5 separate regions of the Homo sapiens genome follow, and regions 1, 2, 3 and 4 are each reported to be linked to region 5. Evidence: microRNA targets listed by miRTarBase, many of them from high-throughput screens and not tested one by one. Region 5 holds a microRNA gene; each other region holds the end of a gene's coding sequence.
The links. Region 5 holds the annotated microRNA hsa-miR-1-3p (UGGAAUGUAAAGAAGUAUGUAU, at 2,161-2,182, opposite strand). A microRNA usually pairs through its seed, bases 2 to 8, with sites in the 3' UTR of a target mRNA and lowers its output. Matches are read on the target gene's strand: a 7mer-m8 pairs with bases 2 to 8, a 7mer-A1 pairs with bases 2 to 7 and ends in A, and an 8mer does both.

Region 1 (3,000 bases), not on the chromosome of region 5:
AACTTACCTCAGTAGTGTACATGAAATGGTTTTGAAACAATAGGAACAGATAAGTCCCAGATAGGAGGCTCACTGATACTTAATTGGCCATGTCACCAATGTTTGTTTTTAAGGGAGTTTGGTGGTTGCCATGTTATCATTTTTTTTTATTCTTTCTTTCTTTTTCTTTCTTTCTTTCTTTCTTTCTTTCTTTCTTTCTTTCTTTCTTTCTTTCTTTCTTTCTTTTCTTTCTTTTCTTTCTTCCTCTTCTTCTTCTTTTTTGCAAATAATTTACAGGCATATGTAAAATACAGTAAGAATACTGGGTCATAGTTTCATCCAGTGAAACTCTGTGACAATCCTTCACTAGAAGGAGAGTACTTTTTTCACACAGTCAGGGGATGAGGATCTGATCCGAATTACATTTTGTCGAGTCACTCATTCCCACAGATTTGAGTTTGAATGCAGCTTGTGGGGTACATCATCAGGAACATTGCACAATTATTTTATGTCATTTAAAAGAATGATGGAAAGGAATGTTAGCGGTGCTTAAAGGCCTCAGTAGGCACTCAATAATTTTATAGAATAGTTAAATAAATATTGCTTACACATAAAAACTCATCTCATTTCAAGATGAGGGGGAAAAAGGCATTTGGGAATCTCTTAATTTAAAACAAAACAAAAGTACTTGCTAAGGGCATGATCCTCTTATGAATCCACAAGAATTCAGCCATCAACAAAAATCCCGTGAGTGGAAAATTGTATGGATCTCTAACATGACATAAAAACGCAACTGCGTTTTACTTGCTACCTTATTGCACACCTCACTTCCTTGATTGAGCCTTTAAAAAACAATTCCAAGTTGATATTTTTTTTTAAAAAGTAGATGACAATCTTAACATTTTACTGTATTTTACATTCACTCTGCTAAACAAAAGCCTTTAAACAGGCACAAAACACTGCAACAATACATTAACTTCCTAATAAAACAAACCTTTTTAATAACATTGAAATAAAATGGTTTCATTTTGCATTAAACTACATACCATGAACTTCTCCAACATAAAAGGACTAAAAACAAGCATTAGAAGATATTTACAAACTATCTTTAAACTTCTACAGGTCTCTCCTCCTCCTCCTGGATGTGCACACCCCAATCCAGTTCACCCATCAAGTGCACAGCAAAGGAAGAGAGGCCCATTTAATAAACATAATGTTTCCAACACCCTTGAGGACCATGGACAGTTTTGCAAGAAACATGGTAAGGCAACTAGAAGCATAACTTTCTGCTGAAAAGAGTCTCTGGGGGTCTTGTCTACGATAACATACATTCTTTGTCCCTACAAACTCATACTTCAAAAATGAATAAAAGCATTAGAAATGGCATTAAAGTTTTACATTGGGCAATTAAATAGCTATGCAAAGGTGTCTTATGCAACTCGATTAAAACCTTGTGCTTACTCTGCTACTGAAAATAGCACACGTAGAAGACAATACTTCCCCAACCAAACAAAAAAAAAAACAAAAAACAACGAAACAACAAACCCCAACAAAAACCCAGGAAGAAGTATAAAAGCCACCAGCTCCTCTATCAGAGCTACTTATCAGTCCTAGGCTTGCCAAACATTGCGGTGGGATTGGGAATCTGGGGAGGAGGGGACAGGGTGAGAGATGTGGGAGTGGGGGCATGTTTAAGGCTAAGGCACATGGAGAATGAGCCCCGGCTAACGGTGGCAAAGGAGAGCTTTCCAGTGTTTGGACTCAGAAGTGCGGCAAGTCTTTTCAATGTTGGCTTAAGGAGAGATCCAGTGTTTAATTTCTTTTAAAAAATAGTACCGCCATGATGATACATGGTAACACCATCAACCCTTAATGCCAGCAGAAATACAGAGGTTTTACTCATTTTAAAATTGCACTTTCCAGTATAACCTTTAAAATAATGCTTTATGTAGTATTTTTAAGCACTACTGTTTGTATCTTTAAATATTGTATATATTTTTCAAAATAGTTCCCTAGCTCCTCAAGTGTGCTTTTTTAATATATAGTTGATATATTATTGAAGGTACTACAAAATAGAAATCTCTGGAGTGCAGAAGTTAAGAAAATAACCTTCATACTGAAAATATATCCTTAAAAAAACAACAACAAAAACCTCTATACAAATGTAGTACAGCATACAAATTTTTAAAAGATGGAATGAAGGCACGAACCATTGCAAGTCTTTTGGAAATGTATGAACGTAGGCATGCTAAGTTGAAAATAGTCTTAAAAAACTAGTGAAAACTTCATGTATATAAAATAATTCAGAAATAAATCTGCTAACATTCTTCACTTTCAGGTTGCATGTGTGAATCCAACATGTTCCTTCTTCATAAATAGTCAAGCGTTCCTTCAGTGGTGTTTGTGTGGTCTGTCTTCGTGCTGGTCACCAGCCTCAGTATGTCTGGTAGACGTCGGGGATGGGGACCTGAATGGCAGCAGCAGGGAAGGCCTGAGGTATGTAGCCTGCGTATCCTCCATACATGGCGGCCGCGGCTGCCGCGTTCTTCTGTAGTGTGGCGATCGTGGCTGTAGCTGGAGCAGCAAATGGCACGTAACTGGCCCCGTAGATCCCGGCAGTAGGAATTCTCTGAACGTTTGGAGCCACCGTGTATACTGGAGTTATTGGGCGGCCCTGAGGAGAAGAGACAAAAAGGAGCCTTCCTGAACACGTGTATGTACCTATCATCCATTCATTCAACAAGCCTCTCCCAGAAGACGGGAATACAAAGACACAAAAGCAAGGGAGAGAAAGGCAGAGGGGCGGGCAAACAGCAATTATTGTAAGCAAGTGGGAGAAGAGCCACTGAAGAGGTAAGGTGGAGCTGCATCCTCAAACTCAGTGATGCCACCTTGTGAAAGTGAGAGGCCTGGAAGGCTGAGGGAAAGGTGAAATACAGTTGCCCCTCAGTATCCTCACAGGTGATTGGCTCTAGGACCTCCGTGGATACCAAAATCCTCAGATGCTCGAGTCCCTGAGAG
Region 2 (3,000 bases), not on the chromosome of region 5:
CACAGGCCAAGGCAGGCTAGAAGTTCCTGTGACTCAGCAGCATGTTCTGTGGGACCACCAAGAGTCTACAGTGTGGTAGTACACTCATCTTTTCTTCTTCTCTCAAAGGTCTCAAACAGCTTAGATGGGAGGCTGAACGTGATGACTGGCTACACAACAGAGATGCAAAAAGTATCATCAAGAAAAAGAAACATTTTAAAAAGAAGAGGATTAAAACCACTCAAAAAACTAAAAAACAAAGGAAATGAGTTATTAATGTAAATTATAGATTAAAATTCTACTTACATCTAATTTTTGCTGTTCAACCATGTTTTTTGATCTAGCTCTCTGATTCCATACATTCCAGACTTCTCAGTGGATTTGTAATAAACTATAAATAAAAATAGCTCTCATTTATAAAGTCATGTGGAAGCATTGTTAAAATTAAATGTATTGAAAAAAACAACTTCTTTTTTCCATATTGCTACATAACAAAATGAAAAAGAGGACAGTAGGATTACAGACTTCACATATAAGTCCTGGCATCTCTGATCATTGTAATGAGCACTATTTCGTCTAACTACATGATGTCATCTTGTTCAGTCTTTATCTACTTGACAGAGAAAGAGACAGCTCCAAGAAGTTAGCAAACCTGAGATGAAACTGATCTTTTAAAACCAAAGGTTTAAACTGTGGTTTGATTCTATCACCTCATATATGAATGATTCCAGAGTTTACATTCTTAACCACTAGAAGAATTCAGAATCCAGCCCATTACCTAATTCTCCTCTCACTAGAATAGATGAGAATTTAGTCTCAGAAGAACTAAAATACATGTGAATAGTATTGTTAGAAATTCCTTGTAAAGAAATTACTACATAATTTATAGGTTACCTGAAGAAGTTGTTTTATACTTATTTTTACTTAAGGAAAAACATACCTTCCAAGATGAAGGGATATTTCTTGCTCATTGTTTGCCTGAAATCTGATGGAAAAAAGGATGTCTTGAAATTAGATATGAACAGAAATTCATTATATTAACACAGCCACAATTTAATGCTAGCTTTAGGGTCCATATGATGGGAACCATATAGATTAGAAATTTGTTTGAAGGTCTTTCTGGTAATCCAGGAACGATCTCCTTTTGTTTTTTTGAGTCAGGATCTCTCTCCCTGTTGCCCAGGCTGCAGTACAGTGGCACAGTCACAATCCACCACTGCCTAGACCCCCCTGGGCTGGGCTCAAGCGAGCCTCCTACGTCAGCCAAGGTCAAGTAGCTGGGATGGGGCTCAGGGGAGCCTCCTACCTCAACCTCCCGAGTAGCTGGGACTACAGGAGCACACCATCATGCCCAGCACTTTTTTTTTTTTTCTTAAGATACAGTGTCTTGTTATGTTTAGCCCAGACTGAGCTCAAGCAGTCCTTCCACCTTGGCCTCCCGAAGTGCTGGAATTACAAGTGCAAGCCATCACACCCAGCCATGACACTTTTTAAAACTGATCCCAAGCTTTAATTTGTTTTTAAATACTGTTGGGATGTTTTTTTAATACCCTTCCTTAGAGTTTAAAAGAAAAGGGATTTTTTGAGTATCCAGTAGCATCTTGGTACAGCGTTCCAACCAAGTATGCTGAGGAAGACTGTGGCAAGTTTCAAAGATGGCTATCATGCCAGGTCTATTCCCTGTTTTAGGGAAAAATCACTTCCTAATTTAAAAAGTTGAGAGCTCTAATATAAAATTTCCCCAAGAAAAATGTTAAAGCACTTTCGGCCATAGCATGTGAAAGTCTTAGTGCCCACTGTTGATGCCCAGGAAGAATACTATAGCCTGAGAAAACTGGTTACTCAGAAAACAGCAATACCAGTTACTTTCTTAGTCTACCAAACAATGAAGTATAATGGGCAGGCTAAGTTTCCTCCATCTGTGCTCCCAAACTAAGCCAGACCAAGGACACTTGCTATATCCTCCACAATAGTAAAATCCATGGAGGTATGAAATTTTTTCCTTAGCCCACAAACAACATTTTTAAGGGAGAAGTGAGAGTGATCTAGTCCACAATAATGAATACTTTGATTCCTGTTCTGCCCCTAAAAATGTCTAATATCTTGAATCTGAAGAACCAATTTCTCCAAACATGCCATTGCCATTTAACACATAAAATGGATTAGCAAAACTATACCCCTTTAGAAAGCATTAACTTCTGAATTATGATTACCTTGGCTTGTGTGCATCTTGCTAAACAAAAAATATGCTCCAAAAACGCCTACAAGTTCGGCTACCAAAACTCCTTTAAAGATCTTCTTTGCTAGTGGTTCCAAAGTACGGGCCATCCTAAATTTAACAACAGATATGTGTAAACCTGAATGAACATACTTAAACTACTATTATCATTTCTCTAATAACTCAAATTCATTCCCACAGTTTGAATGGCTTCTCTGTATGGGAGTAAGACCAATACTATGGTATACTTTTTTGGTTTAGACATCCTATCTACCTAGTTTTCAAACTCCATGCCTGAGGGGCATGATGAACCAAAGACAAAATTGGATAAAGCACAGGAAAGAGAGAAAATGCAAGAAAGCGTTGTAAAAAGAACAATTTACGGAACTAAAATTATTTAATTGTGTAGGAAAACAGAATGGGGAAGATAATTTTTTAGCTGCACTGGGAGTTAAGAAATAATCTAAATGGATACAATATATAAACAGCTCTTTGTAAAGTGCCGTACAAAAGTAAGATCTTTCTCAAGTGGTTCTACACTTTCTAAAGGGCTGGAGTTCTTCATTTATTAATACAACATACACTATTACATATACTATATATTATAGATAGTATAGATATCCTATATACTGATACATACTAATAATACAACATATACTAAACTATTAATACAACATATACTAAACTGTGCCATAGTTCAGGCATTTGGAGTGCAGTGGCACAATCTCAGCTCACTGGGCTCAAACAATCCTCCCACCTCAGCCTCCCGAGCAGCTGGGACCACTGGCATGCCTGGCTATTTT
Region 3 (3,000 bases), not on the chromosome of region 5:
TGGTAACTCTTAAGTGCTTTTGGTATCTCTTGAGATTCTAACTTTTAAAGAGCAACCATTAATGTGTAAAATGATTCCTATTATTCAAGGTTTTTTTTTAATGAAAATAAAATATTTGATTTTCTAGAAAATGGTTTCACTATGAAACTAAAGGTCGTTTGCTTTTGGTCTGTCTTATCACTTTAATATAATTTCAACTTTCTAAGTGGCATAGATTCATAAATCATGAGGTTTCCTTATTTCTGACACTGATTAGGCCTCATTGCCTAAGCAAGGTTCTGGCTAGGTAATCCTGACAGATCACCGATCCGATTCCAAAGTTAATTATGGTTCCAATTTATCAGCTAGCTTTATGACTTTGGGCAACTTCTCAAGGCTTTGTCTGCATCATCAGTGTTTTTCATTTGCACCACCTTCCATGTAACTCTCAGGCTTCAACCAGAGCAACTGTTTTTGGTTTAACATGCTGAACTGCTACATAATATTTTGCCTGAACAAAGGTCTTTATCACTAACAGAGAACCATTAGACTAAATTATCTTTAAGCACAGTCATTAGAATTTTGATTGTAAATGTTTTAATAGAAATACACAATCTTTCACTTTCTCAGACAGCAATAAAGGGGTTTGTAACAATCACTAAGAATACAGAATTTTGCCACGAGGATGCAGCATAATCTACTGCAAAGCTGATCTGCCCAATTACACGTAGTCAGCTGCAAGAATATCAGAAATCAATACAAACAAGTATTGACAGGTGTTACAGACATGCAAAATATCCTTCAATGCAACGAATTTTTAAGAAATCAGCTAGCCTATATTAATCAGATGTTTTAGGTCAAACCAAGTTTCCATCTTGGGCTCAGTGAAATAGTATTAACTCATTGAGTCTCCTTTCCCCCAGGAATGTTGGGAATGGCAGAACAGAAAGAGCTATCACTCCTTAAATTCTTTTATGCAAGTGTTACTCCAACACTTATTTTACTTGGTTTACTTGGAATGTATGAGAGGAAACTGATGTTTTTTACAATGGCCAACTGTATGTCTAAATTTTCAGTTCTCCTTTTTGTGAGTTTCCTGCCAGAAATCCTTGTTAAAGGATCAGCGGGTGTTCACCCCGAAGTTCTTGCTGTTTTCAGTGTCCTACTGCAGACAGGTTTAAAAAGCCAACTGAACAGCAGCAGAATGAAGTATTTTTGAGGTCTATTCAAAAATGTACAGTCCCACCACTCACTAGAACAAGTACACAAGTAAATGGACTCAGCCAGTGCAGGAGATGGAAGGCTGCCATTTTTTATGTTTGTGCACAGCCTTACAGTTTGGAGGTGTGTTTGGCCTACTCTAATATTTCTAGTTTGTCAAAGGCTGTACACTGTTACTGCCAGTTTGACCTACATACTGTGTTCCCTTTGGATCCCTGCTACCATTTGGACCTCGTGTGTGTGTGTGTGTATGTGTGTTTGTGTGTGTGTGGTTTGGTTTGGTTTGAGACAGGGTCTTGCACTGTCACCCCAGCTGCAGTGCAGTGGCACAATCTCGGCTCACTGCAGCCTTGACCTCCTGAGCTCAGGATCCTCCCATCTCAGCTTCTTGAGTAGCTGGGACAACAGGTGTGTGCCATCACACCCAGCTAATTTTTTTATTTTTTGTAGAGATAGGGGTCTCACTACGTTGCCCAAGCTGGTCTTGAACTCCTGGCTTCAAGCGATGCTCCCACCTAGGTGTCCCAAAGTGCTGGGATTACAGGTGTGAGCCACATTCCTGGCTGAGTTTGGAACTTGTAATCTCATTGTTTTCTAAATAATGTTTCATTTTTCTTCAGTGTTGAAAATAGTTGATTTACTTAAGAATGGCATGATCATGATGTTCCAAGATTCTGATTAGTTTCTTTCAAAGCATTCTGCGCCTCTTCAATGCCCACACTGCTGAGCACTATAATAATAGATGTTGTTAGGCCAAAGGATGTCAGATGTAAAGTATGTTCTCTAGCCCCACTCTTAGAAATGTTTTATCAATGACTCAGTCCACTTGATTTTCAAAAAGTCAATGCCATCCCATTAAACAAGTAACCCCTTAGGTACAGAATAATTAATTCCTGCCTGAGTCACTTTAACAGCCTTCTATAGAGTGACATAGTCTTGCTTTTTTTCACAAGCAATAGCTGAAAAGAACAAATCTCAACTGTAAGAACTGTCAGTACATTGTAGGGATAAAGCACTTTTTGAAAAAAAAATCTCTGGCATGTATTAGACAGACTGAACATGAGATAGGGTTGGGGTGGGCTGAGCCTTTTGGTGTCATTAACTGAATACACAAGAATGAACCTCTCATCAGATATCAGGAATCCATGTCATGCAAGTACTACAATAAGATAACAGTAAATTCAGGAATGTTACTGGGGAAAAGGAAGATAGCCTCACTGAGAATTTAATCATTTAACATTAAAAAAACTTTTACATTGGTTCAAGAAGGTAAAACTGTAAGAATCAGATTAGGCTCAAACTGGCAAGAAGCCATCTAAATCTTTCTTTTTAGTGGATCTTTTTCTTTTTTTGTCCATAGCGCCGTCTGCGCTGTTTATAAAGGTGACGAAAATTTATGTATAAACCTGAAAAAGAAAAGAGGTCAATTAGAAATTAGAGTCTTTGTCTATTTATAACCAGAAGCTCTTGTGGCAGGGACAGTATCTAGCTGTCGTCATATTCCACAGCAAAAAGCTTATTGCAGCGGCTCAGGAAGGAGTACAATTTAGAACAAATTAACAATACAATAGACACAAAGCAATTTTTCCCCAGTGGGTTTATTTATTTATTTATTGCGACAGGGTCTCATTCTGTCACCCAGGCTGGAGTGCAGTGGCACAATCTCAGCTCACTGCAACCTCCGCCTCCTGGGTTCAAGCAATCCTCCTGCCTCAGCCTCCTGAGTAGCTGGGATTACAGGCGTCCACCACCATGCCTGGCTAATTTTTTGTATTTTTAGTAGAGGTGGGGTTTCACCAT
Region 4 (3,000 bases), not on the chromosome of region 5:
CTTTCTCTCTTTCCGATTATTCTTCAATAGGATATTGAAGAAACGATGAACACAGCTTTGAATGAACTCCGAGAACTGGAGAGACAGAGCACAGCAAAGCATGCCCCTGATGTGGTGCTGGATACCCTGGAGCAAGTGAAAAACTCTCCCACCCCTGCCACTTCCACGGAATCTCTCAGCCCTTTGCACAACGTTGCCCTCAGGAGCTCCGAGCCTCAGATTCGACGTAGCACGAGCTCCTCCAGTGACACAATGAGTACTTTCAAGCCTATGGTGGCACCCAGAATGGGCGTGCAGCTGAAGCCTCCAGCCCTTAGGCCAAAACCTGCTGTTCTTCCAAAAACAAATCCTACCATAGGACCTGCCCCACCTCCCCAGGGTCCAACAGACAAGTCATGCACAATGTAAAAACCAGCCAAGCAAGGCCATAAAGGGAGGTGACTTAAAAAAGAAAATGGATTAGTGACAAAAGTCACTGATCCATAACTTTCCTTAGTTTTGTGCTTATAACTGGAGATCTTTTGGCTTTTCTATGTTGTCGAATGTAATGTCTGAGACTAGCTAAATTAACACGGGCATTTGTATTTTGTAATTTTTTTAAATAACTGGACATATGTCATTTTAAGGACAATAGAAACACTTAGACTTACTTGAAAATCCAATGCTGCACCACTTGTAATGAAGGCAACACCGCTCTCCACATTGTACAGAGCTTCAGGTTTAATGTAGCCCAGCTGAGTCAGAAAGGTTGTGACCTGAAGGCAGAAGAACCCGAATGCCACACCTCATTGGAGTATAGCCAGTGTTGGTCTGTGGCACTTGGGCTGAAAGGTGATAATGGCATTGCGTGGTAGCTGACAATGAGCACCTTCGGTTCCATGTGGAGCGGGGTTTAGCTCATGCAAAAGACTTGCAATTGTCTCCATGGGACGATCCCAGTGGGACTGTCAGCCCACAGCTCGAGTGGGTTGGATGCTTGCCTCTTTCCTAACAGTTATTTCCCCGGGTCCAGCTTAAAGACTCGATGGAAGGAGGTAGAACCTCTGCTGTTACTGCTTGAACTTAACCTGGGAAAGGAGAGGAAGACACCATCTCCAAAGCTATTAATGTCACTCCTTTTGCGAGCATGATTAGGCCCCGGAGATTTCCAAGTCCCCCCATCTACACTTACAAACGATTAGAAGGGTTTAATTTTAAAGACTTTCTGGTTACACTACTCCACGAACTCCTCCAAAGATCCGTTATTCAATAACTGCCTAGAAAATGTTTCCATCTCCTCTAAATCCCTGTGTTCTCCTCTGTGGAAATGAAGGCAGCAAGAAGCACCTGAGGCCTTGGTTCATGCAGTGTTCTCTTTTGACTAAATCACCTAGGTTCCTTTAAACATGCTACAAAGCCCAGGCATGGTGGTGCACACCTGTACTCCCAGCTACTCGGGTGGTTTACACAGGAGGATGGCTTTGGGCCTAGTAGTTCGAGTCCAGCCTGGGCAGCATAGTGTGAGACCCTGTCTCTTAAAAAAAAAAAAAATGCTACAAAGTCCTGATGATCCTAAATTTGAAATCCCAACTGTCCTCTCCATTTGTCTTTGAGCCAACCCTGAACTGGCCCTGGTACCTGAGTAAGAGCCATGCAGGGCCATCAGCAGAACATGGCCTTGTGGTTCTCACCCAGTTGTGTACCTCACAACCACAACTTCTTTTTCTTTGTCCCTTTTCCCCTTTTTGGTTTTGGTTTTGTATGTGGGCTCTATGTAACTCCCATAGTCAGCTGAACTCTCAATTGGAGACCCTCTTTCTCTGGCATCCTAGCACACAGGCAATTTTTTAAGCCTATATTTATGCTACATTTTCCCCCATCTTAAGAAAATTTGCTTTGATTTCCATTCTCCTACTAGCAGCAGCTGATATCACCTGTAGACCTATGAGCATTTTATCTATTCTATCATTGAAGTTACTGATAAAGATTTTTGTTGTTGTTGTTGTTGTTGGGAGAAATGGATTTCCCACAACTAATCCCTCTGGCCCACCATTAATTTCCTTCTTGGTTTCATTTCAAACTGGCAGCCAATTGCACGCCCATCTAAGAGCTACACAGTGTAGATTTTACTTCATCAGCCCATTGGTGAATGCATCGTGCAGAAAAGAACTGGGATCTGTACTAAAATCAAGATCATTACTTTGATCTCTACCTCAGTTTGCCAGTGTAGTCATTCTATTGCAGGAAGAGATTAAATTGATGAGATATTGTTACTTTCAGAGTCACACTGCTGATTGCTTGCCTGGGGCCTAATTTCACAAATGAATAGTGACTTTTTTCCCATGTATTTCTAGGTATGGTAAACTTTTAAACCTCCAAATTTTCAGAGCCATACTTTTTGCCCATTTTGAAAAAGAAGCCCAGGACAGCACCTTGTCTAGCCCCTCCCCATTTCTCCTGAGCTTTTGGGGTCCTTCAGCACCCTTGGACACCGTGGAGATCCAGCCAAGACTGAGCTTTGAATAGCACTAGCCCTTTTAAACAATCCTCACAAATTCCTTAGGAATTTAAACTTTCCAAAATAATCCCCCACTTTTTTTTTTTTTTTTTTTTTTTTTTGAGTTGGAGTCTTGCTCTGTCGCCCAGGCCAGAGTACAGTGGTGCAATCTCGGCTCCCTGCAACCTCCATCTCCCGGGTTCAAGCAATTCTCCTGAGTAGCTGGGATTACAGGCGCCACCACCACGCCCAGCTAATTTTTGTATTTTTAGTAGAGATGGGGTGTCACCATGTTGGCCAGGCTGGTCTCAAACTCCTGACCTCAGGTGACCCACCAGCCTCAGCCTCCCAAAGTGCTGGGATTACAGATGTGAGCCACCATGCCCGGCCATTCCACCACTTCTTTAAAATAGTAAGAATTCTTAAAAACCATATTCCTTGTTTGATGGAAGAGTAAGATGTTAACAGAGGGCATCAAAGGGCCAGAGGTGTCTTTGAATTTATTTTTTTTCAATGTCTTTTCT
Region 5 (3,151 bases):
CTGTTGGTTGGTAAGTATCATACTGCTGGTGAAATTAACTACAATTCTTTTTCATCATTTTTTCTAGTAGAAGTGAAACAGGTGTTAAACTGCCTAAACTTAAGTGCTGAAGATAGCAATAATACTGGCTTCTATTTTTACTAGTTATATGGGAGCTGTTTAGCAGATCCAGTTGCTCAAGTGTGTTTTTGGATGGCAGTTCAGTTTCATATACTGGCCATATCGGGGCAAGGAGAGGCCATGGGAAAAAAATAGTACAGCATTTGATAATGTCAGCATCTGTTATCCCTGTCAGGGAGACAGTTGAAATGTTTGAGTTATACCAGTGTCAGCAGATGCCCAGAGTTTAATATGTACTCAGTTAAAAATGAACAGCTGATCTAAGTGATAGATGTGACATTTTAGAGTGATTGAAAATACTCTTAGATAAGTTAAACTCGCAAGCACCAGAATCAGCATATAATTTTACTTTTAAAAATGAATAGCCTGTCATTTTATTTTCTAAGGATTATTTATATAGTCTTAATATTATAGCAAAGAGAGTCTTAGTTGCTAGGATGTTTGAGAAGGATTATTAAACAACTTGTATACCTATAGAATGACCAATATAACTGTTTATTATAAAACACAAGTAGAGTAATAAGCTTTGAGTATTTTTATAGAAGAACCTCTACTTTTGAGGTATATATTTTGAGTTCTTGGTATTTAGGACCTATACAGGTAAACTTACCAAATAGAACATGAATCATTGCCATTCTGTTTTGTGGATGATCAGAAGGGCTATGCTTATGTGAGTTAAGCTTTGAACTAATTTCTTTGAAAGTGTAGAATTTTAAAATTATGTGCCTTTTATAATTTCCAGTAAACATGCAGTAACACATATGATGCCATGTGTAAGTCATTCTCATTCTTTATAATCTGATAAAATGAAAATCATCTTTGTATTAACTAGTCTTATTAAACAGAAAATGAACTATAGTTAAACTTAGTCATTTCCATTCAATTTCTGATACAAAAAATTTAAAATATTATGCTTTTATACATGTGTAAATATTTCAGTTGAAATAATACTTTTAGTAAGAAATGGTTAGAATATGTGAATATTACTCTTATTTTCTAACTTTGTCATTAGTAGCTTAAAACAGGTACTGCTTATAAATTTTGCTAAGAGCATTATTTGGAATTTTTTATAAATAATATACAAACTGTGTGAAATAAAAGTATTTTGATATTTCTAAACAATGGATTGATCAAGTTTAGAGAAATTGAATTGTAATTGCATAGTACAATAAAAACAGTTCTTCGATCTGTATAAATTGGTTCTTGACTATAGTGCTTTCATTTTACATGCCCTCTTTGGAGAAAGCAAATTCGAAGATAATACAGATAAATTAATTTCTTTTAAATATTTGGTAGTCTGTTACCAATATACCCTGCTGACTTACAGCTGTGGACCAGAATTTTGTCATTTTTCATGCTTAAATCTTACATTTTAATTAATTTTAAGTTTTAACTTCACATTTAAAGTAGAGATTTGGGTTAAGACCCTGATAAACTTGAGAAGGAAGGACAAGGGCCACTATGTTTGTAGCTGTCAAAAAAGAAAGCCTTTTTAAAACAACAAAACTTTTGGTCAGAAATTCCTCTAATATTAATTATACATTTATCAAAATGAGAAGAAATAGCTTATTATGTGAATGAAGCCAGCTCTTAGTATCTTATTTTTCTGTACAAATCAGTGAGCCCTACTAATGAGATATACTTAAGATTAAATTGTGGAGACAGAAAATAGGTCATGTGTATTCCTCATTCTTTTGTGCTAGTAATACTATTTTCCCTTTTGCAGTCAAATTTTAATAATGAGAGTGCCTAATTTAAAAATGTAAGATGTCTGTTTTAAACTTAGATGATTTAAAAGGAGTTTCATGATAATTGAAATCTACTTCACTGGATCTTCTTTTCCTTCATGAAATAAAAACCTTAGGGATAGTTTCTATCTATCAGTAGTAGATAACCTTTTTTTTTTGGTGTTAGTATTGCCAAAGGTCATCTGTTCATGACTAGGTTAATTTACCATATGACGGTCATTCACGTAGAAAGAAGCAAGAGCTTCTTTTAGCTCAGTTTAATTCTCCCTTGGTGGTTTATTGCCTACCAAAAATACATACTTCTTTACATTCCATAGCATTGTATGTTCATATGGGTACATAAAGAAGTATGTACTCTGAGTAGGTATTACTAAGTTGTTAGCTGTAAAAACATGAAATATTTTATTTTCTTATTTGTTAGTGAAACATTCAGCTTACTAATGTAGAGCAATGGTAAATCATTTGCAGAGACTAATTTATCGAAGACTAAATTTTGTAACAAGTTTACCTGAAGCATGGCATTAATGGTTCCATATTCTTGGTGGACATAGACATTCCTAAGCATTTGACCAGTTATCTGTTGAACTTTGTCCTGGTTTGATTCTTTTTGCAAGAGATTCAAAGAATCAGTGTAGTGTTACAGAGTGTATTTCGGAAACTTAAGATCAGCCTAGTGTTTCTTCAGTCTTCAGAGTGAATTTCTTCTTTTTTTGTAGTCTGCTTCTAGATCCTACAGGTAGATAGTAATTAATTAAATTCAATTTTTTTTTTACAAACTAGATATCTTACTCAAAACCTAACAAATTAACCAATAAGTATTTCTGATATTGACTCTAGAAGTTGAAACAACAAGGAGAAAAACCAGGATGAGTGTGGGTGAATTGAACTTTTTTAAAGATTATGAATTTTTGTTAGTGTTTTATAAGGTCACAGATAAGAACTCGTGATCATTTGAAAATTTGTCATTCTTTTTTCTTTATTAGTTCCTTACCTGAAGTTTGCACTTTGATGCTTCTCTTTGGGTTAAATACAAATATGAGTTGAATACAAATTCAAATAGATGTAGAAATATCTAATTTTGGTGAGTTTAAGTTGTTTTGATTCTTTAATCTTTTTAGTATAAAGGATAACTGTCAGAATCGTCAACTTTTAGAAAGTATCACTTCAAAGAACTGAAAGGTTTTAGTCTGTGAGCACCTGGGTTTTATTTACCTTGATAGTTTAGAATGAAAAGAAATTATAGTTGGTAAGTAGCCTTCAGTTATTGTGGTATTAGAAGGTTA

Region 1: the mRNA of RBM47 is a reported target of hsa-miR-1-3p. Seed matches in the 3' UTR shown: 7mer-A1 at 2,172-2,178 and 7mer-m8 at 513-519.
Region 2: miRTarBase lists CEBPZ as a target of hsa-miR-1-3p. Seed matches in the 3' UTR shown: 8mer at 338-345.
Region 3: the mRNA of HACD3 is a reported target of hsa-miR-1-3p. Seed matches in the 3' UTR shown: 7mer-m8 at 2,385-2,391, 8mer at 994-1,001 and 7mer-m8 at 902-908.
Region 4: miRTarBase lists SRGAP1 as a target of hsa-miR-1-3p. Seed matches in the 3' UTR shown: 7mer-A1 at 2,866-2,872.

What each region holds. Positions count from the first base shown.
Region 1 is chr4:40,423,491-40,426,490 of GRCh38, forward strand. It overlaps RBM47 (RNA binding motif protein 47), which reads right to left. Exons shown (of 7, transcript NM_001098634.2): 7 at 1-2,653. The coding sequence ends at 2,414. It overlaps RBM47-AS1 (RBM47 antisense RNA 1), which reads left to right and starts at 2,643. Exons shown (of 2, transcript NR_199039.1): 1 at 2,643-2,692. RefSeq lists an enhancer at 1,932-3,000.
Region 2 is chr2:37,199,012-37,202,011 of GRCh38, reverse strand. CEBPZ (CCAAT enhancer binding protein zeta) reads left to right here. Exons shown (of 16, transcript NM_005760.3): 16 at 109-400. The coding sequence ends at 248. CEBPZOS (CEBPZ opposite strand) reads right to left here. Exons shown (of 5, transcript NM_001322374.2): 2 at 2,193-2,308; 3 at 920-964; 4 at 286-370; 5 at 1-149. The coding sequence starts at 2,307. The coding sequence ends at 288. Among named protein-coding and RNA genes, the nearest start is that of CEBPZOS, 4.0 kb to the right of the region's middle.
Region 3 is chr15:65,575,909-65,578,908 of GRCh38, reverse strand. It overlaps HACD3 (3-hydroxyacyl-CoA dehydratase 3), which reads right to left. Exons shown (of 11, transcript NM_016395.4): 11 at 560-2,606. The coding sequence ends at 2,530. INTS14 (integrator complex subunit 14) reads left to right here. Exons shown (of 12, transcript NM_001394796.1): 12 at 1-152. Among named protein-coding and RNA genes, the nearest start is that of INTS14, 34 kb to the left of the region's middle. RefSeq lists an enhancer at 1-35.
Region 4 is chr12:64,142,265-64,145,264 of GRCh38, forward strand. It overlaps SRGAP1 (SLIT-ROBO Rho GTPase activating protein 1), which reads left to right. Exons shown (of 22, transcript NM_020762.4): 22 at 31-3,000. The coding sequence ends at 408. Among named protein-coding and RNA genes, the nearest start is that of KICS2, 79 kb to the right of the region's middle.
Region 5 is chr18:21,826,855-21,830,005 of GRCh38, forward strand. It overlaps MIR1-2 (microRNA 1-2), which reads right to left and starts at 2,234; the gene lies at 2,150-2,234. All of the region lies in intron 12 of MIB1 (MIB E3 ubiquitin protein ligase 1), which reads left to right. MIR133A1HG (MIR133A1 host gene) reads right to left here. Exons shown (of 3, transcript NR_110369.1): 3 at 1-2,598.